Homo sapiens: one gene and its partners. The protein of the gene in region 1 purifies or fractionates together with the protein of each later gene. This does not show direct contact. Each region holds a gene or a part of one and is shown in the gene's direction. Other genes may lie near its edges. The genes, in order: SLC35B3, RAB6B, TMEM59, RBM42, DSG2, LRIG3 and WRNIP1.

Region 1 (3,500 bases):
ATTCCAAAGCATGGGGAAAGCATTATGCTATACTGCTTTCTTATACTATTACCTATAATTGTATTGAGTCATTACAATATGCTTGGCAGTTTACTAAATTACAAACATCTCAGAAGAAGGTGACTTTGGGAAAGCGTGACCTTCTGGAGAAATGTTTTGATGCCAATAAAAGCAGGAAAGAAAGATATTTTCTAGAAGTTTTATTTATTCTGTATGTATGTGTAAATATGTAAGCATTATTTGTAAATTTTCCCCACTCTTTTTCTATAAGATTTTCAGTTTTGCTCATAAAGTTTGCCAGTACCACCATCCATTTCAAAAATCGTATCCAAGCAGAAGGTGAGTGATTGCAAGCTGAAGTTTGAGGGTATCAAGAGGAAGGATCAGTTTATTTGGTTCATCTGAATATCAGGTCAGAGTATATGCCAGGTACCAAGGACACAGAGACAAATAAGATTTGAATCTTGCCTTTCAAGTTCTCTTTTCTAATAACTGGGGGGATTAGTGATGGTGTCACAAAGGAGGGGATATTAAAGCTGAACTTCCAAACCTGACCTTGAGAAAGAAGACCTCAGGCTGAAAGGACATCATGAACAGAAGGCAGCGGTGTTTTAAAGTCCCTGGTGTATTTCAGGAATGAAACATGGGTGGTTTAGGGCTTTATTGAGAGTGGAGGGAGAGCAAACTTAGAAACCTATGTAAGGCCGGGTTTATTTGAATGGTGCACTATATCCATGCTCACACATAGAAAAGAGTAAATTGTTAAGGTTTTCGTCTCTTCTACATTCAAGCACAGGTTTGACCAAATATTTAGGAGAGATAATTTAAAGCATGGTTTTAAAAGAAAGTCACATCTCAAAGATACCCTGCAAGATTACATAAAAAGTCTTACAAATGACAGTGATTGAAACATAATGTGGGAAGCAAGAACAAAGGAAAGTGAAGAATAAACAAGAGGAACACAGTAAACTTCATGAAACAACTTTTCTATTTAGAAATAAGGCAGGTGCCCTATAAAATGTTGTGGTGGCTGCATATTTTTAGTTACAAGTGGTATTCAGATCCTTGACCCCTCCTTTAATTCCTAAGGATGACCTGGTTAACCTCTGTAAATTAGCAAACTAGAAGTGATCATGAAGAGGCGACTCTAATTTTGGCCATTTTAAGCCATCTTGTAACAGTTTAAAAAAACATTACCAAAGGAAAACTCACTGTCAAAATTATTCTTATTTCTCTTCGTGCCGCAGAGTTTAAATTTTTGTTCCCACTGGAATTAAAAACAGATGAGTCGTTTCTAAGAAAATAACTTTTTCTTTTACATAGGTTTATTCTATACTTTGTCATAATTCTTCAGTCTTTCCTCAGTCTTTACATGGAGTTCATTTTTTCAGTTTATATAAATCCAAAGAGAAATTGATGGCTTCATAATTTTTTTTAGACTGACAAAAAATGACATGTTTTCTCCAGCCTTTTACATCCCAGAAGAATGTAAATTAAAATGATTTGTTCCAGAGGAAGAAAACATTTTTTAACCTAAGAGATGCTACTGCTGAAGCATATTGTGCTTTCTGTAGTCTCTGATAAATCTAGCTTTTTAAGGACCTTAGGTTTGGGGTTTCTTTGTTTTGTTTTTTTCATTTATTTTCTAGAGACAGGGTCTGGCTCTGTCGCCCAGGCTGGAGTGCAGGGGTGCAATCATAGATTACTGCAGCCTCAAACTCCTGGACTCAAGTGATCATCCTGCCTCAGCCTCCCAAGTAGCTAGGACTACAGGCATGCACCACCATGTCCAGCTAATTTTTTTATTTTATTTTATTTTATTTTATTTGGTAGAGAGAGGGTCTTGCTATGTTGCCCAGGCTGGTCTTGAACTCCTGGTCTCAAGCAACCTCTCTGCTTCAGCCTCCCAAAATGTTGGGATTACAGGCATGAGCCACCACACCTGGCCTTCATTTTTTTAGTTTATTTTTTAAATGTCATTAGCAAATATATCTTAGAATTGTCTTAGTATTTAAAGGAGAATTACTTATTTTTTACTCCTCTACAAGTGAAGATTGACTTTAATGTTGAGAATGTTATGCATCAACTATATATAGACACAAAGACATGTTTAGTTCTTTGATGAAATAACTAGCTTTTGTTGCTGTGGAAATAAGTATGGTTTATATTCAGTTTAATGATGTACTAATCTTTATCAGCTGTAGACAAATTGTTTAAAGATTGTAGGCATATTGTTTTTGGTGATTTGGAACCTAGAATACAGGAATTAATATACTAATATCCAGAGAGAAGCAGACATTTGTATAACTTTAAAGTATGATTTGGAATATTATTTGGAGGATTAAACTTTATCATGTAAATGTTTTAATTGCTTATTTCCTTCTCTAGGACTTGACACAGCAAGCAAAAGACATACAGAACATAACAGTCCAGGAAACCAACAAAAATAACTCTGAAAGCATTGAATGCAGCAAAATAACAATGGATCTCAAGTTCAACAATTCCAGGAAATATATTTCTATCACTGTGCCATCCAAAACCCAAACAATGTCACCACACATCAAGTCAGTTGACGACGTTGTGGTACTTGGCATGAATCTCAGCAAGTTTAACAAACTTACTCAGTTTTTCATATGTGTTGCTGGAGTTTTTGTATTTTACCTAATTTATGGGTATTTACAGGTAAAAAAGTTATATGTTTGTAATATGTTAATTATTTATAATAATTGCGGTCAGTATGGGCATTTACTAGTTTTGCCCAAGATAGTCACTTAGGGGATACTGGCTGATTCATAAATTTGAATTTTTTAGTATAGAGTAGAAAAGAGCTTCTTAACAGATCAAAATTCAAGAGTTAAATAATTTAAGTGGGGAGGAGGCATATGTAGAGACTATCTTGAAAAATTTTCATTATGAAAATTAAGTTTTAAATATTTAACAAAATGTGTGCTTCCAAGAGAAAGCAATGATTCACGTATTGATTGGTATCTTGGAATATTATTGAATGATAGTGCAGTTTACTTGATTCTTGGAGCTCAATAATAAAAGATCATTTTTGCAAAAATGTATCAGGATATTTTATGGTTTTCTAAAGGTATCTCTTTAATCCTATAATATTTGAATTATTTCTTTTTTAAACACCTCTTATATTCTCATTCTTATTGGTTTTGTCTTCTAACTTTGCCAGAATCTTATTGTTCTGTGATTTTTTGCTGGCACAAAACATTTCTGATACTGCAACAATTTGTCTTATATTTACATTATATTTGGAAAAGTTATATACCTTTGGCTAGGAGCAGATTTCTGACCTTCAAAGACATGGGCTGGATGGGTGAGGATCCAGGCTAGTGAAAACAGGATGTTGGAATGGGTTCTAATTTTATGAATGGTCATTTAATTAGTGGATATTTTCCCATAACTTGAGAAAACCTTTGTAATTCAAGGAAAGGAAAATGATGTATTTTCTTAAAACACAGATATTTCCAGTATTCTTTAGTACT
Region 2 (3,500 bases), on another chromosome or scaffold:
CTGAGGCTTCTGAGGACAGCTACCTCCCCTCCCCTTGGGTGTGCAGGCTGCCGAGTGGTGGGTATTGCCTTATAGCTGCTCTGCCCTGCAAGGCCTATCATGGCAGCTGAGGGGGGTCAGGCTGCCCAGAAGTGGCCTTGTCTCTCCTGGATTTTTGAGTGCACCTGGCTCCCCTGACTAGTCCCGGGGCCACCTTTCCCCTCCTCTCATCTGCAGAGCCTGAGGGTTCTCTTCAGAAACCCCTCTGGCCTTCCCCAAACTCTCCTGAGCTCCCATGGTGGGGACACCACTCAGTAGGGCCCTTCCTTCCCTAGAGGCTGCTGTGTCCTCCTCTGCCCACCCTCACTGTTCCCAAACTTGCCAAGTCGCGCGCGCATGTGTGTGTGTGTGTGTGTATGCACACACACGTGTGACCCAGTTCTCACTCTCCACTCTGAATCCCCAGAGTCAGGTCTCTCAGGTGGGCCCCTAAAGCCACTATTCCATGTGGCAAATCATGACACTGTGATCTTCCAGATGGGGTGATTCCTCTCCCACAAAGGGTGGCTGAACAGTGCAAGTGGCTCCCCAGGGCCGCAGGGCAGGGCCCGGTTCCCTCTGAAAGGCCCTACCCAGCTGATCTGTGTTGACTGAGCTCACACCCCTCCCTGGGTATCTGAGGGCACATGCTCACCCTCCCTCCTGCTCCTGGCTCACACCTCCCCTTCCCATCTCCCACTGGTGGCTGGCCCTGGCTTTCAGTTTATCCTCACTTTCTGCCTCCAGATCTCAACTCCTTCCAACAGACCTCTAAGTGGATCGACGACGTCAGGACAGAGAGGGGCAGTGATGTTATCATCATGCTGGTGGGCAACAAGACGGACCTGGCTGATAAGAGGTAGGTGCAAGGGCACACAGGTGCAGGGTGCCACCCTCCACTCCTCTGTAACTGCTCCTGGACAGGGAGCTCTGGGATGCATGGGTGGTGTGTCTGTGCTTCTGACCATGCATCCGGAAAAGGTCCCTTGAGACACTAGGAGCTTTGAGGACACCTGGTAGACTCTCATCCATGGGTATCTCATCTGTGAAGCCCTGTCTTCCACCACCAGGCAGGGGCGGGGCACTTCTCCGTTTGCTGTCTACACAGAGCACTGTGCACCTGGCTTGACCCAGCAGTGCATGGTCTAAGGCCCTGCCATGGCCACAGCCCTGCCCCAGACACAGCAGTCCTCTAGGCCCCAGCGTGTGCACTGTGAACTGTCTGTGCCTGTGAAGTGTCTGCACCAATGTGCGTGGGGCTGTGAATGCCCTGGGCCCTAGGTGTGAGCATGCAGAGCATTCAGACCACAAACCTATGGCCGTAGCCTGCTTAGCCTGGTTTGTGGCTGCGTCTGGCATGAAGCTTTCTCTGAAGAGGCTCCTCCATGCTGCCCTCCATGCACAGGGAGAACTGAGGTGCCATGTGTGTACATTGTCCACTCATTTTACATGACCCTGACTTGGGCAGATAAAGTGACAGGCCATGGACTCCAGCAAGCAGTGTGGGCTTCCTGCAGCGTCCCTTGACCACCTGAGGAATCATCTGAATTAGAGCCTGCTTTACTAGAGTTCTGTCCTTAAAGTAAGGAAAACTGGGCTCAAATCCCAGTACAAAGGGTACCCAGGCCCTTCATACCCTCACCCACTTCTGCCTGCCCCATCATGGAGCCCTCTCTGCTAAGTAGCTTTGTGGCCCTGGGGGAGACACTTTTAGCATTAGTGTTCTCACAGGGAAAATGCGACTGATAATACCACCCAGAGTGGCACTGCCTGGCTTGAATCTCTTCATAAGCACAGGCTCTGCAGTAGTGACTACTGGGAAAGGCAGGTATGGGGCAGCCCTACCCCAGGGCCTGCTTTGAAGCTGAGAAGACACAAAGGAAGGAGTGGGGGAAGCGGATAGTGTCCTACTGTTCCCTGGTGCCTGCTTTGTGCTAGCGAGACTGTGGTTGGTGCCCGGGAGGGACCCTTGGGATCAGAGCCTGTCTTCAGGACTGACCAAGGGCCCAGTGGGCTCCCTCTGCCCTGCTGGGTGGGTCCCTCCTCATATCTGCCAGGGTCTGCTTCTCTGCTGAGCTGATTTCCCCCCTTCCCCTCATCTCTAGGCAGATAACCATCGAGGAGGGGGAGCAGCGCGCCAAAGAACTGAGCGTCATGTTCATTGAGACCAGTGCGAAGACTGGCTACAACGTGAAGCAGGTGAGGACACACCTGGCACGGGGCCCGGCACGGGGCCCGGCACGGTGTAGCCCTGTGGTCAGCTGCAGGCTCAGAGCTGCCTTGCCCTGAAGGGCTGGTGATGGGATTGGGGCAGCCAACCAGAACACCCATAGATGCGCCCAGGGAGGGGAGAGCTAATTTCCGGAGCTGGTAAAGCCCAAAAGAGGGAGGGACCACTCCGGGCATGGCATCTGGAGAACATAAGTCACCAGCCACCGTAGTAGTTGCCAGTCACGGCCCACGTAGCAGGCCCTAAGAGTGTCCAGCCACCAGCTTCCAGGAGGCTGAGGGAAGCAGTGGTTCCCTAGCCCCTCACCCCACTTTGGATGACAGGTGCAGGAAAATTCAATCTGATCAGCATTTGGGGTTCATGCCTTGCGCTTAGCAAGTGCTCAGGGCTGTGGAGGGCAACTCAGGCCTGGGGGAAAGAGCCTACCATGATGTGGTTGGAACTCACAGGAGGGCGAGGCAGTGGAGTTAGGGCTGAGCCTTGCAGCATGAGGGCCCCTGAGTAGTCCATGGGTGGAATTTAGCAGGTCAGCAGACAGGGCTGGAAAACATTGCACCTTTATCTTCACTAACCACTGACCCGTCCGTAGCACTGAAGGACGTCTGATTTGTCCTTCAATGATGAATGTAGGCAATGACACTCAGTCACATTAGCAGTGCCTATGGCTTTACCACCAATAGAAATCACAGATGCCTTCCCATCACCTCATAGTGTTGCAGGTATCTTGAACTTCACATCTATCAGTGTTTCAGCATCACACTACTTATTAGATCTCTTGCTAGTTCTCGCTGTTCAATGTGTTTCATAAGGAAGCACAAATGTCGATGAAGTTTTATTTCAGTACTCAGTAGTCCCCTTTATCATCCTATGTAATTGATTTCACATACTTCAAAGGAGTCCATAGGATTAACCAGATTGCCAGAGGGGTCCTTGGCTCACGGAAGGGTTAAGAACTCCTGCCGTTGGGGATGAGAAGGACTTGGAGAGGTGGTGAGGAGGGAGGGCATGCCAAGCAGGGGAGCAGCAAAGGTGTGGCTGCAGGGTGCCCGAGGTATGGGGAGGGGACTCTGGGTGAGGAGTGTGGTTGGCCTGGCGGTCGCTTCTGCCCTGCCACCCCAGCATTGCTGGGAACCCTTGGCAAGCTGTGTATACAGCACTGGCCTTCTGGATGCAGTGATGGTTTGCCCTGTGTGGACAGTGCTGGTGGCAGTGGGGAAGGTGGGCTGGCAGAACGACAAGAAGAGACAAGAAG
Region 3 (4,060 bases), on another chromosome or scaffold:
GCTATTCTGGATTCTAGGCGTTCGAATGACGAATTTATCCATTGTTAGGGGACTCCGACTACCTTGACGTGCTTGCAGCGTGTTCTGGTCAAGAAAGAGGGCAGATTCTAAAACCCCACTAAAGACTGCCATGATATTTTTTCCCCAAAGTAACACAATTGAGTTCTCTGGAAGAATTCATGAATTATGGGGCCTCGAGTGGAATTGACAGGAAGTAAGATTTTCTCTTTAAAAGAAAGATCTTCCGAAGAATTGAAACTGTAATCAATCATCAGTCTACGTCCTGAGTTAGGAGGTTCCTAGCTTCCAGAAGTGCACGCTCTAGCGAGGATTCCAACATTGGGGGAATTGGCCCAATATTGGAATCCCCGCTAGAGCGTGCACCTAAGCCCTCTTCCAAATAAGATTGGGCTGTGAAAGGGTTAGGATTACATTAGGCTCAGTGACGCCCTCTTAACAACCACCTCACCACAGCCATAATCCCAAGGGTTGCCCTGGTAATCAGCAACCGACAACCACCTCCAGAACTCAGCAGAGGGTCTCACAATACGCAGCATCCCCTAGAACAAACTGCTCGGTGGTCAGAGGACCCTACCCACGGCTGTAATCTCTGGATCCCCGAACAAGGAGAAACCCCATCCTCCTCGTTCCCAGCACTCAGGAGCCCGGGTAGGGGCACCCAACAACGGTCTGACGTGAGACCCACCAGGAAAAGCAGCCCTGGTAGCTGCTGTTGGCGCCCTCCAGACTGCAACCTCGTAGGCTCCCAAGCCCAGTCGTCTGTGTTGAAACTAAACAGACGCTTCCTCCCAGGGCGGTAGTTCCTCTGAAGAAACTCCGCCGGCCCTCGCGCCTCTGGGCCACAGCGAACCACATTCCCCAGAATGCACTGCGAAGAAATGCGGGCGGAAGGCGCGCTGAGGGCGGCTGTAGTTTTCCGAGACCAACTTTCCCGACAGCACCGTGCGCCTCCCGCCTACGGAGAACTACATGCCCCAGCCTGCCCCGCGAAGGGAAGAAGTCAGGAGGCCCCGCTTCGCGCTAACGCTTGCGATGGTTGAATTCCCCTCCTCACGCCAGCCTAGGAGAAGAAGTTCGTAGTCCCAGAGGTGAGGCAGGAGGCGGCAGTTTCTGGCGGGTGAGGGCGGAGCTGAAGTGACAGCGGAGGCGGAAGCAACGGTCGGTGGGGCGGAGAAGGGGGCTGGCCCCAGGAGGAGGAGGAAACCCTTCCGAGAAAACAGCAACAAGCTGAGCTGCTGTGACAGAGGGGAACAAGATGGCGGCGCCGAAGGGGAGCCTCTGGGTGAGGACCCAACTGGGGCTCCCGCCGCTGCTGCTGCTGACCATGGCCTTGGCCGGAGGTTCGGGGACCGCTTCGGCTGAAGCATTTGACTCGGTCTTGGGTGATACGGCGTCTTGCCACCGGGCCTGTCAGTTGACCTACCCCTTGCACACCTACCCTAAGGTAGGGCCCGTCCGGAGCGGGCTGCGACCCTTCCCTTGCAGCCCATTTCTCGGCTCCCCACACGTATGTCGGCTCTGGCAACCTGGCTGTTAAATCGGCCCTTCAATCGCTGTCTCCCATCTGTGTAGCTCCTGTTTTCCTCCCTAATCCTGCCTGCACCCCATTTCTGCTGTCATTACCGGAAGTTTGTCCTGCACTACCCTGTGATAGGCTGGGGGACACAAAGATGAGAAAGACGCGATCCCTTTCCTCTGGGAGCTTGCCGGGCTGCAGGGGAGTCGAGCACTCGGAGGAGGATAGGGGAGGATATGGATGATTAATGCGGGGTCCTCACCTAAGGGAGCGTAAGGGGGGATTGTAGAAAGGGAGGCGCAGATACGCGAGTCCACAAATGATTGATTGATAACCCTTGTTTACTAAGCGCCTCTCGGGGCCAGGAGCGCAGTCTTCGGGGAGTCAGACAAGTAGACGATTCCACTGTGGTATAAAAAGCGTCACGAAGGCAGCTCAGGGAGTAGCGAGACGCTCAGGAATGCTGTCTGCCTATGTTGAGTTACTGTGTCCAAGACGCTGCCAAGAGGGACTGGGTTAGAGAAGAGGCAATTAGGTGTCTGCCTACCAGAAACTGACCACTCAGTGCAGAAAACGGGGAATTCGTGGAGTGGGTGAAGAAATGAGACTGTGGACAGGAGGGGGTTCGCAGCTTACAGAGAGGAATGGCCCTCCTCTCTATGCTTCCCCCCTTTCTTTTAATTACATACCTAACCCTCTTCACGTTGGTTTTTCAGCCTAAGAACTCTGTTTACTCAACATTCTAAATTGCTTGATGATTCCCACCACACCTTTCCCATGTATGATTTGAGTATATGCCCTCCCCCACGTTGTTTTATGAGAGCTTTTGTTGATGTTGCTGGTGGTTTCCTCTTCGTTTTTCCTTCATCTCCTCTATGCTATTTGCTTAACCATTGTGGCTGGACCTCCTTGCTCTCTAAAACTGGAGTGGCTACGGAGACAGTTCCAGTGAAGCTTAGGATGTTCCATATTGGCGAGTATTTTCAGGTCTTTGAAATGAAAAGTTCTAAGTGCCGGCACTTCTCAGATTTTGTTACGGCTGGATTTTAAACTGCATGGAGATTATCAATTTTCAAAAAAAAGTGTGGGAGAAGGGACTGTACTAAATTTTTCCAGAGATTTATGTAACAATCGAGAAAGAAGTGAGAAGTTTTAACTTCAGACTTAAATCAATGAATACTGCTTCTAACCACGTTATTTTTCTCCACCTCTTGTAAACTTCTCATCATTAAGAGGATTGTATGAAGAAGCTCATTAATATTGATTTGGCCTGGAATTGGGTTGAGACTTACTTTCTATTGTTCTAGGGTTTGTTTCCTTTTTTGGGATTTTCTCGGCAATTTTGTGGTATAAACCAGAATGTTGGGAAAATAATCAAATAATTTGAAAGGATACCTTCCTGGAAGTTGTAGGTACTTTAATAATGTCCACTATTTTCTAACAATTGGTGTTATATCTATAAACTATTTTTACTTATTTATTAAAGCTTTTCTCACAAAGAACTCCAAATCATCTGGCTCCCTATAGGTCCTGGACTTGAAATTTATATAGACTCCACTGTTAGCCAGAGTGATGGGAGATTTATCATACCATTATCCCTAATTCTCACAACAACCCTGTAAAGTAGGGTTTTAAAATTAAGGAAATTGAGGCTCTGAAAGGTTAAGTGACTTGCCTAAGGTCACATACCCAAGAAATAGTGGAGCAGGAATTCAGCTTAAAACTGGCTACACTATGCTGCCTCCTATTAATAAACTTGCATTAAACATATTCGGCCGGGTGCGATGGCTCACGCTTGTAATCCCAGCACTTTGGGAGGCCGAGGTGGGTGGATCACCTCAGCTCAGGAGATTGAGACCAGCCTGGACAACATGGCAAGACCCCGTCTCTGGAAAAAAGAAAAACAAAAAAACTAGCCAGGCATGGAGACGAGCACCTGTAGTCCCAGCTACTCGGTGGGAGGCTTGCTTGAGCCTGGGAGGCGCAGGTCGCAGTGAGCCGAAATGTCGCCAGTGCACGCCAGTCTGAGAATGAGACCGTGTCTCAAAAAAATAAAAATAAAAAAATGCCGGGCGCGGTGGCTCACTCCTGTAATCCCAGCACTTTGGGAAGCTGAGGCGGGTGGATCACCTCAGGTCAGGAGTTCAAGACCAGCCTGGCCAACATGGTGAAACCCTGTCTCTACTAAAAATACAAAAAAATTTAGCCAGTCGTGGTGGCGGGCGCCTGTAATCCCAGCTACTCAGGAGGCTGAGGCAGGAGAAGCGCCTGAACCCGGGAGACAGAGGTTGCAGTGAGCCCGCGCCACCGCACTCCAGCCTGGGCGACAAGAGGGAAACTCTGCATCAAAAAAAAAAAAAAGAAACATATTTAATTATGTCACTGATTTCTATTGGCTCTCCTCTGTGCTTTGTGCTCCAGGAAAAAGCACTGTGTATTGTAAGAAATTAGATGAATTTTCAAACTCACATAGCGTTTGAAAAACGAGATAGAAATCTCGTTTTAGGCTGGGCGCGGTGGCTC
Region 4 (3,075 bases), on another chromosome or scaffold:
TCAAGACCAGCCTGGCCAACATGGTGAAATCCCGTGTCTCTAAAAATACAAAAAAATTAGCCAGGCTTGGTGGGAGGCACCTATAATCCCAGCTACTCGGTTGGCTGAGACAGGAGTATCGCCTGAACCCAGGAGGCAGAGGTTGCAGTGAGCCGAGATCAGGCCACTGCACTCTAGCCTGGCAACAGAACAAGACTCCATCTCAAAAAAAAAAAAAAAAAGAAAAGAGATACTTTTTGCATATCATAATACTATTATCAAGTCTAAGAACATTAACTAATTCGGTATCTTCTTTTCAGTTTATATTCGTATTTCCCTAGGTGTCCCAAAACTCTGTTAGAACTATTAATGTTTTTGCCCTGAACCAGCATGCATGCAGTTTTATGTCCTTCAATTATATCTTTTTTTTTTTCTTTTTTTTTTTTGAAACGGAGTCTTGCTCCATCGCCCAGGCTGGAGTGCAGTGGCGCAATCTCGGCAGCTCACTGCAACCTCCACCTGCCAGGGTCAAGTAATTCTCCTGCCTCAGCCTCCCGAATAGCTGGGACTACAGGCGCGCACGACCATGCTTGGCTAATTTTTGGTATTTTTAGTAGAGACGGGGTTTCACCATGCTGGCCAGGCTGGTCTCGAACTCCTGACCTTGTGATCCGCCTGCCTCAGCCTTCCAAAGTGCTGGGATTACAGGCATAAGCCACCACGCCCAGCCTCGATTATATCTTAATAAGAACGGTCTCTTTCCTGCCTCTTTGTTTTGTACATATTTTTTGAAGTGTCCAGGGCAGTTGTCATGTATGATGTCCCACCTTCTGAGTTTGTCCGGTTGTTTGCTCCTGGCATTGCCTAACTTGTGCTTAGAGTGTCCCATATCACAGACGCCATGGGGCAGCCGTGCAATGGCTGAGGAAGGAGATGGACCCCTCCTGCTTCAGTGTTTGACTTCCACCCCCTCTCCTGGGACCGTCTACCTGGCCCAGAGAAGACCCTAGCTCTGTGACCTTGGGCAAGTCACTTAGCCTGGTTTTGTTTTGTTTCTTCTTTTGTTTTTTTTTTTTTTCTTTTTTTTGAGACAGAGTCTCGCACTGTCACCCAGGTTGGAGTGCAGTGGTGTAATCTTGGCTCACTGCAGCCTCCGCCTCCTGGGTTGAAGCAATTCTCCCACCTCAGCCTTCCGAGTAGCTGGGATTACAGGCACCCACCACCACACCCAGCTAATTTTTGTATTGTTTAGTAGAGATGGAGTTTCACCATGTTGGTCAGGCTGGTCTTGAACTCTTGAGCTCAAGTCATCCACCTGCCTCAGCCTCCCAAAGTGCTGGGATCACAGGCGTGAGCCACTGTGCTTGGCTCACTTAGCCTTTTAAGCCTCATATTCCTCATCCCCTCCCTTGTGGGGACAGGGATTCATTGGGACAGAGCATGTTCAGTGGAAGCACAGGCCCAACTCAGAGGCAGCATGAGAATGTCAGCTGGGTGCAGCCATGGCGGAGGAGCAGGCAGCATGTCCAGGTCTCAAGGGGGAGTTAGGGCAGGCCTTGCCAAGGAAGCAGGGCTGAGGAAAGATGAAGCCCATGTTCCTGAGGTGCCATGACGGGCAGCCAGTGGGTGACAGGGGTCCAGGGGACCAAGGGACACCAAGGCTCAGAGGAAAGGCCAGGGCTAGGGCAGAGTTAAGGGTGTTACTACAGGAATGAGTGAGGTGGCCCTGGGGTGGGGAGGGCAGTGCAGTTCAAGGTTAAAAGTAAGGACTGGAGCCAGATGCCTGAGCTCTTGTCTTAGCTCTGCCGCTTCCTGCTTGTGTCACTGTGGGCAGTGACTTCACCTCTCTGTGCCTCAGTGTAAAAGCATGGTTGGGAGTGCCAGAAATGGAAACACCCCTCCAGGTGCCAGCAGAGCTCCTGGCGCAGGGTCAGTAGGTGTTGACCATTATTACTAAGAGGTCCCTAGGCAGAGACTAGATACCTCCGAAAAGGTGGGATCGTTCAGACAAGGTAGACACTGGGCAAGGCCTCTGCATCCTCTGATGTCATCTCTTCCCCATCCCCAGATGACTTCCGGATCTTCTGTGGGGATCTGGGCAATGAGGTGAACGATGACATCTTGGCACGCGCCTTCAGCCGCTTCCCATCCTTCCTTAAGGCCAAGGTGATCCGTGACAAGCGCACAGGCAAGACCAAGGGCTACGGCTTCGTCAGCTTCAAGGACCCCAGCGACTACGTGCGCGCCATGCGTGAGATGAATGGTGGGTGCGGCCTCCCCTGGGAACTGCAGGCGCGGCAGGCGCTGGCCTAAGCCTGACCCGAGCCTGCCTTGAACCCTCTGTCTCCACAGGGAAGTATGTGGGCTCGCGCCCCATCAAGCTTCGCAAGAGCATGTGGAAGGACCGGAATCTGGACGTGGTCCGCAAGAAGCAGAAGGAAAAGAAGAAGCTGGGCCTGAGATAGGGTCTGTGGCCAGGCACCCGCTCCCACCTGGCCGGGCGCTGGCTCCTCCCTCAGTTCTCTTTGGAAAACCCCCAGCTGTCCACCCATCCCCTGCCCCAAAACCAGTTTCAATAAATTTACGTTCATTTCCACCCCTGGCTGGGCATGGAAGCACGCTGTGGGGAGCAGGGCTTGGCTTCCCCACAGCTGGAAATGGCGGGGAGCCTTGAGAGTTTACCCAGGCAAACACCCAGGCGGGGGCTTCTGAGCCCTTCCTGCGCACCCATTCCCTCTTCAAACCTCTTCCACACATGCTGAGTGCTGCTTATTCCAGAGGAGAAAGGGGGGCCAATGGCAAGGGTGAAGCCAAGCTGAGGCCCATCCCCGTGTCCTGGCTACTTCCTGTGTTCTCAGCACCAAGGTAGGAGATCTAGGCCCTTCCCTTCTGGAGCTCACAGGCTTCTAGGCCCTCTTCCATCCAGCAGACTCTCACCAAGGGTCTGAACAGTGCTTGAGGACACAATGGTGACTAAAAGTCCTGGGCCCTGCACCGTTAGAGCTCAAGGTCCAGTGCAGAAAATAGGCCCGGTGCCCTGACGATAAGAGCCCAGAGTGGTCAGGGCAGGATGGGGGCGCTGACCTGTGGGTGAGG
Region 5 (3,500 bases), on another chromosome or scaffold:
ACTGCAAACTCTGCCTCCCGGGTTCACGCCATTCTCCTGCCTCAGCCTCTCGAGTAGCTGGGACTACAGGCACCCACCACCACGGGCAGCTAATATTTTTTTGTATTTTTAGTAGAGACAGGGTTTTACCGTGTTAGCCAGGATGGTCTCGATCATCAGACCTCATGATCCGCCTGCCTCGGCCTCCCTAAGTGCTGGGATTACAGGTGTGAGCCACTGTACCCGGCCTAAATATACTAAATTTTAAGGCTGTTCCCTGATGATGTGGACACTGGGACCTCTCTGATCCAGGCACTGATCTTTCTCTTCAAAAATTCCCACCCAAGGAACATGCAGAGAGAAGTGATCTATCTCAGCATTGCTTTCCCTTGCTTTTCATACCATGCCACCTTTGAAAATACATAAATTTGGGGAGCACCACTTTGGTTAGAGACATCTCTGGCCATTGCTAGCTGGGCAAGTTAATAGTAGACAGAATGAAGAAGAGATCATAGATCTGATCATAAAATAGAGAATTAGCCATGATTGTTCATCTGCCCCAGAGAAGCCCACACTAGAAGCTGAACATCTGCTCTCCTTGAGTTTCTCTTTGGAATGGAGAGCCAAGAACATGAACTGACAATGGAAAGGAAAGAAAGAGGCTGAAAGATTCACTTGTGGAATGGACCCTACAGGAAGCTTTCAAATGAATGCAAAGGATGTGAAAGAGACTTTGAAATTTTAGGGAATGCCTTGTTTCCCATGATGTACCAACTAGGGCTTTGTGGATCCATGTGACCATGCAGATGGGAAAAGGCAAACAACTGAGAAAAGCTACACCAAAGACAGAGTCCAGTGAATTAATGCATAAATGGAAGGTGGAGTAGTGGGAGCAATACATATAGACAATAATTTCAATTTGGAATTATAAGTAAGAGAGGGATATAGAGCAATAGATTGTTAACAGAAACAAGAGAGGGATCTGGTTTTTTTTTTAAGATAAGGAAAACCTAAATATATTTGGTTTGCCAATCAGAAGGAAATAAATGTATTGATTAGCCAATGGAGAAGGAAGATAAAAGGTTAGTGGAAGGATTAAGGTTCTTGAAGATAAATGTGGGAGAACAAATAGAGTTGCAAATAAAGCACACAAACGATGGTTTGCCTTGGAAAGGAGTCAGGACACCTCTTCTGTGGGGAAAGAAGGGAAGGAGAGGATGACTGAAGATAGTCTCAGTCAAATAATACATGGGGTCATCTCATAAGAGTGAATAGGTACAGAGGTGTGACTAGAGTCATCTCCTAAAGTTTGGAATGCCTATTTTAGAAATGCAATAAGGGTAAGGCAATGACAAAGTGACGATATAATTTATAGTGTGAGCACACTTTTGAGGATGAAAGGGTTGTTAACAGATGGAATGCCTCACAGCAGGTGTCAACCTAGACTCTTCTGAGCAAATGCAGACATATGGTCACACTAGAAAGGAACCGCCACCCCATGGAAAGAGCAGCTATTTGAGAGCATGAATGTGTAAGGGATCTATTCAGCCACTGTGGCCTCCTCTAGCGATATTGCCAGTACATGGTCAGAACTAAAGAGAATAATAGGTTTCTAGAGTTGAGAGGAAAAGTGAGGCAGGAATAGCAGTCATGAAAATGAAGCCTCCCTGGTGGTCACTGACAACATCTTCAGAGTGGCAGGCAGCAGTCTGCTAGCTGCTCCGGTAGAACTGTGTGCAGCGGTGGAAATGTTTTCTGTCTGCCCTGTCCAAATGGGTAGCCCTTAGCACATGTGGCTGTGGAGCAACTGGATTATTCATTTCAAATAATTGCGGTTAAAATCCAAATAGCCACAAGTAGCTACCATATTAGAAAGTGCTGGTTCAGATTGAGCCAAGAGAAGAAGGAAGCCAGCAGGGAGATTAATGAACTATAAGGAAATCCTGCCATTTGCAGCAAAACAACATGGCTGGAAGTGGAGGTCATTATGTTAACTGAATAAGCCAGGCACAGAAATACAAATACAACATCTTCTCACTTATATGTGGGAGCTAAAAGTTTTGATCTCATGGGCATCGAGAATAGAATGATAGAATCCAGAAACTGGGAAAGGTAGTGGGGAGGTGGGGGAAGAAAAGAATTGATTAATGGGTACAAATATATGGTTTGATAGAAGAAATAAGACCACTAGTTAGAAATAAGTACACTAGTTCGATAGATCAGCAGGGTGACTATAGTTTACAATAACCTATTATACATATCAAAGCAGCTAGAAGAGAATTATTTAAATGTTTCTAGCATAATGAAAAGACAAGTATTTAAGGTAATTGACATCCCAAGTATACTAATTATCTTTACAAATTATATGAATGTATTAAATTATCACATGTATTCCAAAACTATGCACATCTTTAATGCATCAATTTTTAAAATTATTATTTTACAGTGCAAAATATTCAGAAAGCAAGATGGGAGTTTTTTGGGCAAATTTAAGAGTAAGCATAACTGTATTTAGAACAGTACTAGGTCATGATGAAGTCCCAAGTGTGACAGTGCCTATGAAGAACCAAAGAAAAGAGTTGGTGGGACTGAGGATGCTGAGGAACCGAGAAGTCAGAACATGGGCTGTCCGTGTGTGTGTGGTGTGTGTTTTTTTGTGTGTGTATAATGCACACACATCCATAGGGATGGTGGGAGTTAGCTGGGTGTGGGGTACATTACATACTGGTGGCCTCGAGGAAAAGTAAGCAGGTCCTGGAGAACACAAGATAAAAACCATAGGATGCGGAGTAAAGGATGAGAGAATGTCTAAGATTTCACAAGGCAGATTATTTTGTTTGTTTTTTAAGATACTGTTTTCTGGAGGAGTCAGTATGGATCCAGGAGAATATAGATTTCTCCTCGGGCACTTCCCATTAGGGAAGGCAATGGGAAAAATTAGTTTCCTCTTGACAAAGAATAGTAGTAGTGGTTAAACTTTTTTTATGTCTATAATATTCAATGCAGTAGGTTATTCATGAACAATGTTTTCACACTGAATTGAGCAGTAAATTGGCTAAATATCAAATAATTTTATTTTACAGATCTGCTTTAACGTTGGAAGTGGACTTCACTTACAGGTGAGGAAACAAAGGGATTATTTCTGCCTTCTGACTCAGGAGGGTTAATTCCATGGCAAACAGGTTGACTGGGCTTTACTAGATTGAAGACACATGTTGTATTAGACCCAGCCATTCCCATTCAAACAAGTGCAGAGGAGCTTATCCAGGGGTATTCAGTGCAGCAGTTTTTGACAATGTAAATATCCACCAATAGGTGAATGTTAAAACCATTTATGGTACATGAAAGAATGTCCATGACGAGGTGCTGAATGAAAATCGGGGCAAAATAAGATATATAGTGTAAGTCCATTTTTATAGCAAAAAGACCTTTATGCATCTGTGTATATATGTGCAACTGTATAGTTATGAAAAATCATAAAAGATATTAATCAAGCTGTTAATGAATACTTTGTGAGGTAT
Region 6 (3,500 bases), on another chromosome or scaffold:
TGGAATTGCTCACACATAATTTAAAAAGCAGTTCTGTTTATGAGAGTTCCACCCCAAAATGGCTTTTTAAATTAAGTGCTCCAATGTAATTTTTTTCCCCAGGATACTCCAAGGAAATCGGATCCGTTCTATTACTAAAAAAGCCTTCACTGGTTTGGATGCATTGGAGCATCTGTGAGTAGCTAGAATTTAGTTACCCTAAAAGAGAATCTCTAAGATGGTTTTTACTTATGTGTCATGAAAGATAAAACAAACTGGAATGTAATTTTGTTGGCATCCTTCCGGTTCCATAAAATATATTTAAACATCTCCCTATCTTTCTATTTCTTTCTCTGTCTACCTACTTACCTACCTACCTATATAGAAGTATACAGGTGTATGCTTTCCTTTGTATTTAAGAACAAAAGCTATATCTCCTTAATGGGTTTTTAATTGTTTTTCTCAAACAGTGATTATTTAATTAAAAAAAAAACAAACTACTAGGTGTAGTTCATCCACTATATATCAGGCATTGTACCACATATTCACATATATTCTCATTTAATTCTTAGTCAGAATACAATTCAATAGCTATTATTATCTTTATTGTTAAGCGGAGGTTCTAAGAGTTTATTGATTCCACTGGACAGTTAAAGGAGATGACTTGGCTTTTAAAGAACAAAGACAATGTTCCACAATCCTTAAGAGTGACATAGGAGAGTTTTAGCACTACTTTGAGAATTGTTGGTCTCTTATTGTTGTTTAATTATGAAACATACAACCCCCCCTTACCATTGTTCTCTTTTTTGTTGTTTTCTTTTGTTTCGTCTTGACCCACCAGTTAGTAGCTGTCAGAAGCAGGACGCAACCCAGAGCTGCCCCGACTTGCACAGTGTCCCTGCATCACACTAGCTCTTGCCTGTACAATCTCTGCCGCTACTCCCAGTAGCTCCTAGTAACTCCTGGCACACATTTCTGAAATGTCATTTAGGGGCTCAGGAATTTTCAGCCACTAAGAGAGGAAAGCTAGCTAACATTGATAGGAATCAAAACTTGCATGTTTTAACTAAGGGAACCAACCAGCTGCTTATAACCATGGATGTATGTTTTACGCTTGTACAGTAAAAGTACAAAGTAATGTATAATATCGACTCTGACTGTTAAGGAATGCTTGTATCCAGAAGTTTTAATATGTATTAACCAGGACAAAAGAAGTTACAATTTAAAATACATATTGGGTTCTCCTATGTGTGCTGTGTATTGAGAGTGAAGATTTAGCTGTTATCTGTAAACCACTGTGTTGTCACCTTCTGACTGCACCAGTTCCTCTGAGGGAGACTTGGATCGTGAGCCACCCAGACAGTGAGTGCGGCAGTTCAAATTATAGTAGAATGATTCTGCAAAGCTGAGTTTTGGAAGGGCAGACCAACATTGCAGTATTTATTGAAACCGATTATTTTGAAAAGAAAACTAGCCAAAAGGGTTTGTCATTTGGCCCATTCCGTTTCTGGGAACGTGGAATTAGTGGATCAGTGGAGTATTAATCTCTGCTTCAGTTTTCTTAAATCTTCCTTGATTGCCCCAGCCTCTTCGTCTAGCCATGTCTGGTCCCTTCTTTCTTTGTCTTCTCTTCCCACTTGTCTCACTCAATATTCCCTTTGTATACTGTGACCCCTGTAAAGAAAAACAGAGTGGTAATCATTGTGGTGAATACTTTAATGCAGAGTGCTTATAAGTCTCTGTATAAAGAGAATTAATCCAGAATATGTGCTCATTTTATGAATTTCCTGCCTGAAGTATTGGTTTTAACAAGTATATCTTGTCTGAACATCTTACTGCGTTTATGTTAGTGAGCTGTGGGTGACAGAATTAGGTTAATGGTTAAAAGCACAGGTTTTGGAATTGAAAATAATTGTTTCAACCCTTACCTTCCCCTTTCGTGCTGAGCTAAGTAGTAATACCATCATATTTTGGGTTGTTGTAGGAATAAATGCAGTAACACTTGTAAATCACTTAACTGAGTGCATATCTTCAAAAATACTGTGTAAATGTTTTATAAAAGCATAATTATTTTTATTTTTTATTTGTATATTTTATTTGTATATTTAGAAGTTTCCAATAGTTGCTAATTTGAATAAAGAGTAATAGAATGAAATAATAGAACAGCATGGGCCCTAATGAGTCAAATAATCTTTAAGTGATGACAGAAAGTGAATCTTTTTCACTAAAACAAAACCTATCTGTGATACAAATGCCCTGGGTCTTCAGCACAAGCTTTGCAGTGGATTCTTCTGGGGCTGCCCCAGTCATGTATTTGACACATAGAGGGAGTATTTGTTTGGCAAATGGGGTGGGCAGTGGGGGCCCAAACTTTGTCCAAAAGCACGAAATGATGGTAGTTTGCTCTGATGCATTTGATTTGGTGATTTTTCAGAGACCTGAGTGACAACGCAATCATGTCTTTACAAGGCAATGCATTTTCACAAATGAAGAAACTGCAACAATTGTAAGCTTTTCTTTTCCTTCTAGGAGTCTGAAAGTATAGAGGGGAAAACTGTCATATGGTGTGGCATCCTGGATTATGTATCTATAAAAAGTGCCTGGCACATTCTTAACATTACTTAATTTTTATACTAGGCAACAGAAAAGGAGTTTATTTGTTCTTTTTGTTGAAATGAGTTTTTCTTTCTATTTTAAATTCGCAACTTTGTGGGACCAAATATAGTACAGTCACCCAATATAGTAGTAATTTTTTCAGTTGTAAGGAACTTTTGATAAATCAACACTTCTGTCTCAGTAGGACAGTAAGAACAACAGAAAATCATGCTAGATACATTTCTTGTATTTTAAAATGGACTGTGGGATACTTATTCCATGGGATGTGTGTATTCAGTTTCCAAATTCATTGCTTTGTTAATATTTACTTGGGTTTAGTTTACTTGTAGAAATCTGCATTTCATACAGAACAAATTGAATGTAATTACTCTCCTCAGGCATTTAAATACATCAAGCCTTTTGTGCGATTGCCAGCTAAAATGGCTCCCACAGTGGGTGGCGGAAAACAACTTTCAGAGCTTTGTAAATGCCAGTTGTGCCCATCCTCAGCTGCTAAAAGGAAGAAGCATTTTTGCTGTTAGCCCAGATGGCTTTGTGTGTGGTGAGTATAAGTATTGCCCTTGCCTTTTATTTATTCTTCTTTTTTCCCCCTCCCATTTATCCAAATAATGGTTTTGAATAGATTTATGATCTCTTTATAAAGCTTTTATTTCTGCTGAGGTAGAGGAAAATGGGTCTATAGTTTGCTGATTATTTTAATTTCACAGATGGGAAAGAGAGTTTTCTAAAATTGCTTCATCTTTGTTTTGGCATCAGGATGGTGCGGTGGAATGAGAATGAAATTGGATCTTGGGAGAATGGAAGGGTAATCTCAGCCCTTCTACTTAACTTAAATTCCCTAAATATTAGTCTCTGCATCCATGAAATGGGGACTCTCCTTTCTTCTCTTCCCAACTCTGAGGCTT
Region 7 (3,500 bases), 5.7 Mb from region 1:
GGTTATCGTAATGTATCTGCAACTTAATATTCTGCATGTGTACTTGTCTGGGGTGATTTTTATTGATTTCATGTCATCAGTTCATGAAATAGAACATGAAATCAATAATTAATATTGATGACATGAAGTCAATAATAATCAGTTGTTACTCAGATACCCTCAGGTTTTTTCACCTCTCCCCAGTCACTGCCGTGCAGGAATTTAAAGGAAATGAGAAAGGCGGCAGCCAAGGAGCTCATCCTTGTGAGAAGAATTTCTATATTTTATTATTAAAAATCCTCAGGTGATTTGCAGGCACATTAAAGTTTGAGAAGATCAAGTGAAATAATTAAGATTTAGTTATTGAAACTGATATAACAATGAGCTAGAGATTGTTTATCTGCTAAAATTGCTTTTCAGAGAAAACTTCCCATATCCAGTAAATGATTTACTATTTCCACTACCGCTTGCTTAGACTTGATCCCAATTATATTTGCTATCTTGTGTCCCCCGCTTTCCTGGGAAGACTGTGAGGACAGGAGCTTGTCCCTGTTCATATCCCCAGCACAGTGCCTGGCACACATTATGTGCTTTGTGAATGGTTTGGAAATGAATAAATCCTAGCTTTCGATATGAGAAAAGTAGTTTAATATGTTTTGCATTATCCAGCATAAGGGATAATTACCCAGGTATCAAGAGCCTTTTTCTTTAATACTATTGCCCTTTTCATCAGCAGCAAGCAGAGTAAAATGAAAGAATGTTAAGCTTAAAACCATTAATTGGTCAACTTGTTAGCAATTCTAACAAGAAGTTAAGTTAGGAGATATCATAGGCCACAGAAAGAACTCTTACAAGTGATTTCCGAATACAAGTACCTGCCACCCCAACTGTCAGGGATAATTAAGAGTGGATTGGGATGTCTTTTAGTTGTTTTAGGTAAAATTTTGCTTTCCAATCCCTGTTGACAGCTCTATATACATCCTTGTGCATATAAATCAGATTTGGTGACACTAATCTAGTTGAAAGAAAAGACTTCCAACCCCATATACTTACTTTCTCTCTCCAGGAAGCTATTGGTGTGCATTTGTATTCTTGTGTCATGTTTTGGTGCCCTAGATAGCAACTAGAACATTTACAGAGAAGTCCCAGGCTGTTGAACTGCACGTGAGAGGAGGTGAGCAGGGCACTGGATTTGGAAACTAATCAAGCTGCCGCTTAGCCGTTCTTGATTGCACTTGAGGAATTGTGAGTTGTCACACAGTATACTCATGTAAGTGATAAATTCCCATTAAAGTGAAATAAGTGTTCTTTTTTTAAAAAAAAATTCCCTCCTGTAGTTATTATTCAGTCAAAATTGAAGCTCCTGCATATGCTAGGCATTGGCTGAGGGTTGAAAAGCTTGTTCCTGTGCCTTCAGAGGGAGCGCAGTATGATGAAGGCTAGGGGAGCAGGTCCACTTCCAGTGCCACGCTTATACGCCAAGTGCAGTGGGCGTAGAGAAGCAGCATTCAGAATATGTGAAATCCAGTATTTCACCTCCTAGATGAGGGGATGCGGAGTTGAGTTTTGAAGGATAAGCAGAATTTAACTGAGTGAAATAGAAAGCTCATTGTCTACGCCATAGTTGCTTTGGTTTGTATGGCTAAGCAGTAGTGTTCAGGTATTTTGCTCTCCCAAAAATATTTGGATCACATGATACAAACAGTGAAGATTCTGTCTGCTCTGGGTTAATTTTGGAGGCCAGGAAAAAAATGTCCATGATTCATGATACGAAGAATGAGCTTGTGCTGCTGAAAATGAAAAAGTAAGCTAGCATTTCGTCATCCTGCACTACTTGCTGCTTTGAAGGAATATAGATTCCTAGGTCATAGAATATATACATAGTCAAAAACACTCCTAAAGAATCAATTATTTGTGAACCAGATAGAGTATACAAGTCTTTGGAGATCAAGAGAGTGAAATGAGAAGCCATAACTGCCCTCTGCCTAGCTAGGCTGAGTTCCGAGAGGTGGTTGGAAGACAGAAAGTGGCGTCTGTCCCTGGGTAAGGGCTGTGGCGTAACTGGGTGTGGGGCTTTTCTCTAATCATCTGGAGAGGAGAGCCCCTGACAAGCTGGCCCCCAAACAAGGTGGCTATGGATTCTTCTTTTTATAAAAGTTTAAAGTGTCTTAAATAACCTTTTGTGCCATTGAATAGAAAGAAAGGTAGTGGAACTCCAGAATACAAGGGATTGGCCAGAATAAATGGTTGGTATAGAGTAGATGTCAATCTTTTTATTTAAAAATTTTTTAAGTACATTAATACAGTACATTAACATAGCTGTTTTAATACAAGGGTGCATTAAAATAATGCCATAAAAGCACCAGCAGCCAGAACCACAGATCTCATGGTCCTTGGATGCACTTCCTGTGGCTGCTGTAACAATTGCCACAAACTGGGTGGCTCAGAACACAGAGCTTTATCCTCACAGTTCTGAAAGCCAGAAGACCAGAATCAAGGTATCAACAAGGCGATGCTCTCATCCAGCATCTGATGGCCCTTGGCATTCCTTGGCTTATGACTATGTCACTCCAGTCTCTACATCCATCTTCACATGGTGGCCTTCTTCTCTGTGTCCTTACGTCTTCTCTTTTTCTGTGTTTTGTAAGGACATTTGTCATTGGATTTAAGGTACACTCTAAATCCAGGATGATTTCATCTTGAGACCCTTAGTTACATCTACAAAGACCCTATTTCCAAATAAAGTCACAGTCACAGGTTCCAGGGATTAGGACTTACATCTTTTGGGGTCACTATTCAACCCACTACAGACCCCTACCAAGTATAATGTAATTTGGAAAGACATGTGCCTCCATGGGATTAAACAGAAAGACGTCGTCATCTGAAATGTACCTTCTCTCTTTGTGGAGAAAGTCAGTTTTGTTTTGCTTTGCTTTCACTCTGATGTTATGGAAGCGGCAGCATCTGGGGCTCTGCCTTGGATATGTGCAGTTCTGGAGAGTATGCTGTTGCACAGTCTGATGAGGGTGATTCTCCTCGCTGTTGATACCAAAGCAGTATTTGTCGAGTCTCATGACATGGCAGGCACTGCTCTAAGCATTCCACATGTCTTAATCTCATTCAGTCCTCAATACAGCTCTGCAAAGTAGATCTCATTACCTCCTATTTACTAGATGAGGAAACTGAGGCACAAAAAGGTTAAGTAACATGCCCAAGACCAACCAGCTTCAATGTGATGGAGCCAGTGTTTAAGGCATGTCTCTGTCTTCTCAGTGACTTCAAGTGCTACAAGGGGTGGAGGTGCCAAGTTTACAGAGGATGGACCCACTGCTCGGTTTTTCTGTTCTGACTTTTCTCTCTTGGCACTTCTTTGTGTAAGAGCAGCAGGAGAGCCTTTTAACCAGATCTGCACATCACACTTCCCTGGGATACATTTTAGAAACATGCCTTGCCCAGGGTCTGCCCCTGGAGATTTGAGCTCAGTCTATGGTAGGTAAGGTACATGTGGCTGTATTTGTGTC

The links.
Region 2: the proteins of SLC35B3 (region 1) and RAB6B purify together in Homo sapiens (affinity purification with mass spectrometry; one large-scale study listed by BioGRID and IntAct). This does not show direct contact.
Region 3: the proteins of SLC35B3 (region 1) and TMEM59 purify together in Homo sapiens (affinity purification with mass spectrometry; one large-scale study listed by BioGRID and IntAct). This does not show direct contact.
Region 4: the proteins of SLC35B3 (region 1) and RBM42 purify together in Homo sapiens (affinity purification with mass spectrometry; one large-scale study listed by BioGRID and IntAct). This does not show direct contact.
Region 5: the proteins of SLC35B3 (region 1) and DSG2 purify together in Homo sapiens (affinity purification with mass spectrometry; one large-scale study listed by BioGRID and IntAct). This does not show direct contact.
Region 6: the proteins of SLC35B3 (region 1) and LRIG3 purify together in Homo sapiens (affinity purification with mass spectrometry; one large-scale study listed by BioGRID and IntAct). This does not show direct contact.
Region 7: the proteins of SLC35B3 (region 1) and WRNIP1 purify together in Homo sapiens (affinity purification with mass spectrometry; one large-scale study listed by BioGRID and IntAct). This does not show direct contact.

The regions. Positions count from the first base shown.
Region 1 is NC_000006.12:8,429,046-8,432,545, reverse strand, and holds part of SLC35B3 (adenosine 3'-phospho 5'-phosphosulfate transporter 2), read left to right. Parts: intron 1-271; exon of another isoform or gene 272-339; intron 340-2,388; coding exon of another isoform or gene 2,389-2,481; coding exon 2,482-2,682; intron 2,683-3,500. UniProt on the Homo sapiens protein: Probably functions as a 3'-phosphoadenylyl sulfate:adenosine 3',5'-bisphosphate antiporter at the Golgi membranes.
Region 2 is NC_000003.12:133,836,883-133,840,382, reverse strand, and holds part of RAB6B (ras-related protein Rab-6B), read left to right. Parts: intron 1-765; coding exon 766-877; intron 878-2,123; coding exon 2,124-2,217; intron 2,218-3,500. UniProt on the Homo sapiens protein: The small GTPases Rab are key regulators of intracellular membrane trafficking, from the formation of transport vesicles to their fusion with membranes. Rabs cycle between active GTP-bound and inactive GDP-bound states.
Region 3 is NC_000001.11:54,050,405-54,054,464, reverse strand, and holds the start of TMEM59 (transmembrane protein 59 isoform 2 precursor), read left to right. Parts: upstream 1-1,260; 5' UTR 1,261-1,276; coding exon 1,277-1,465; intron 1,466-4,060. Other genes in the region: TCEANC2 (transcription elongation factor A N-terminal and central domain-containing protein 2), read right to left, coding at 1-42.
Region 4 is NC_000019.10:35,635,111-35,638,185, forward strand, and holds the end of RBM42 (RNA-binding protein 42), read left to right. Parts: intron 1-2,047; coding exon 2,048-2,242; intron 2,243-2,331; coding exon 2,332-2,444; 3' UTR 2,445-2,575; downstream 2,576-3,075. UniProt on the Homo sapiens protein: Binds (via the RRM domain) to the 3'-untranslated region (UTR) of CDKN1A mRNA.
Region 5 is NC_000018.10:31,515,177-31,518,676, forward strand, and holds part of DSG2 (desmoglein-2 preproprotein), read left to right. Parts: intron 1-3,062; coding exon 3,063-3,098; intron 3,099-3,500.
Region 6 is NC_000012.12:58,882,505-58,886,004, reverse strand, and holds part of LRIG3 (leucine-rich repeats and immunoglobulin-like domains protein 3 isoform 2 precursor), read left to right. Parts: intron 1-102; coding exon 103-174; intron 175-2,413; coding exon 2,414-2,485; intron 2,486-2,972; coding exon 2,973-3,136; intron 3,137-3,500. UniProt on the Homo sapiens protein: May play a role in craniofacial and inner ear morphogenesis during embryonic development. May act within the otic vesicle epithelium to control formation of the lateral semicircular canal in the inner ear, possibly by restricting the expression of NTN1.
Region 7 is NC_000006.12:2,771,893-2,775,392, forward strand, and holds part of WRNIP1 (ATPase WRNIP1), read left to right. Parts: intron 1-1,045; coding exon of another isoform or gene 1,046-1,106; exon of another isoform or gene 1,107-1,159; intron 1,160-3,500. UniProt on the Homo sapiens protein: Functions as a modulator of initiation or reinitiation events during DNA polymerase delta-mediated DNA synthesis. In the presence of ATP, stimulation of DNA polymerase delta-mediated DNA synthesis is decreased.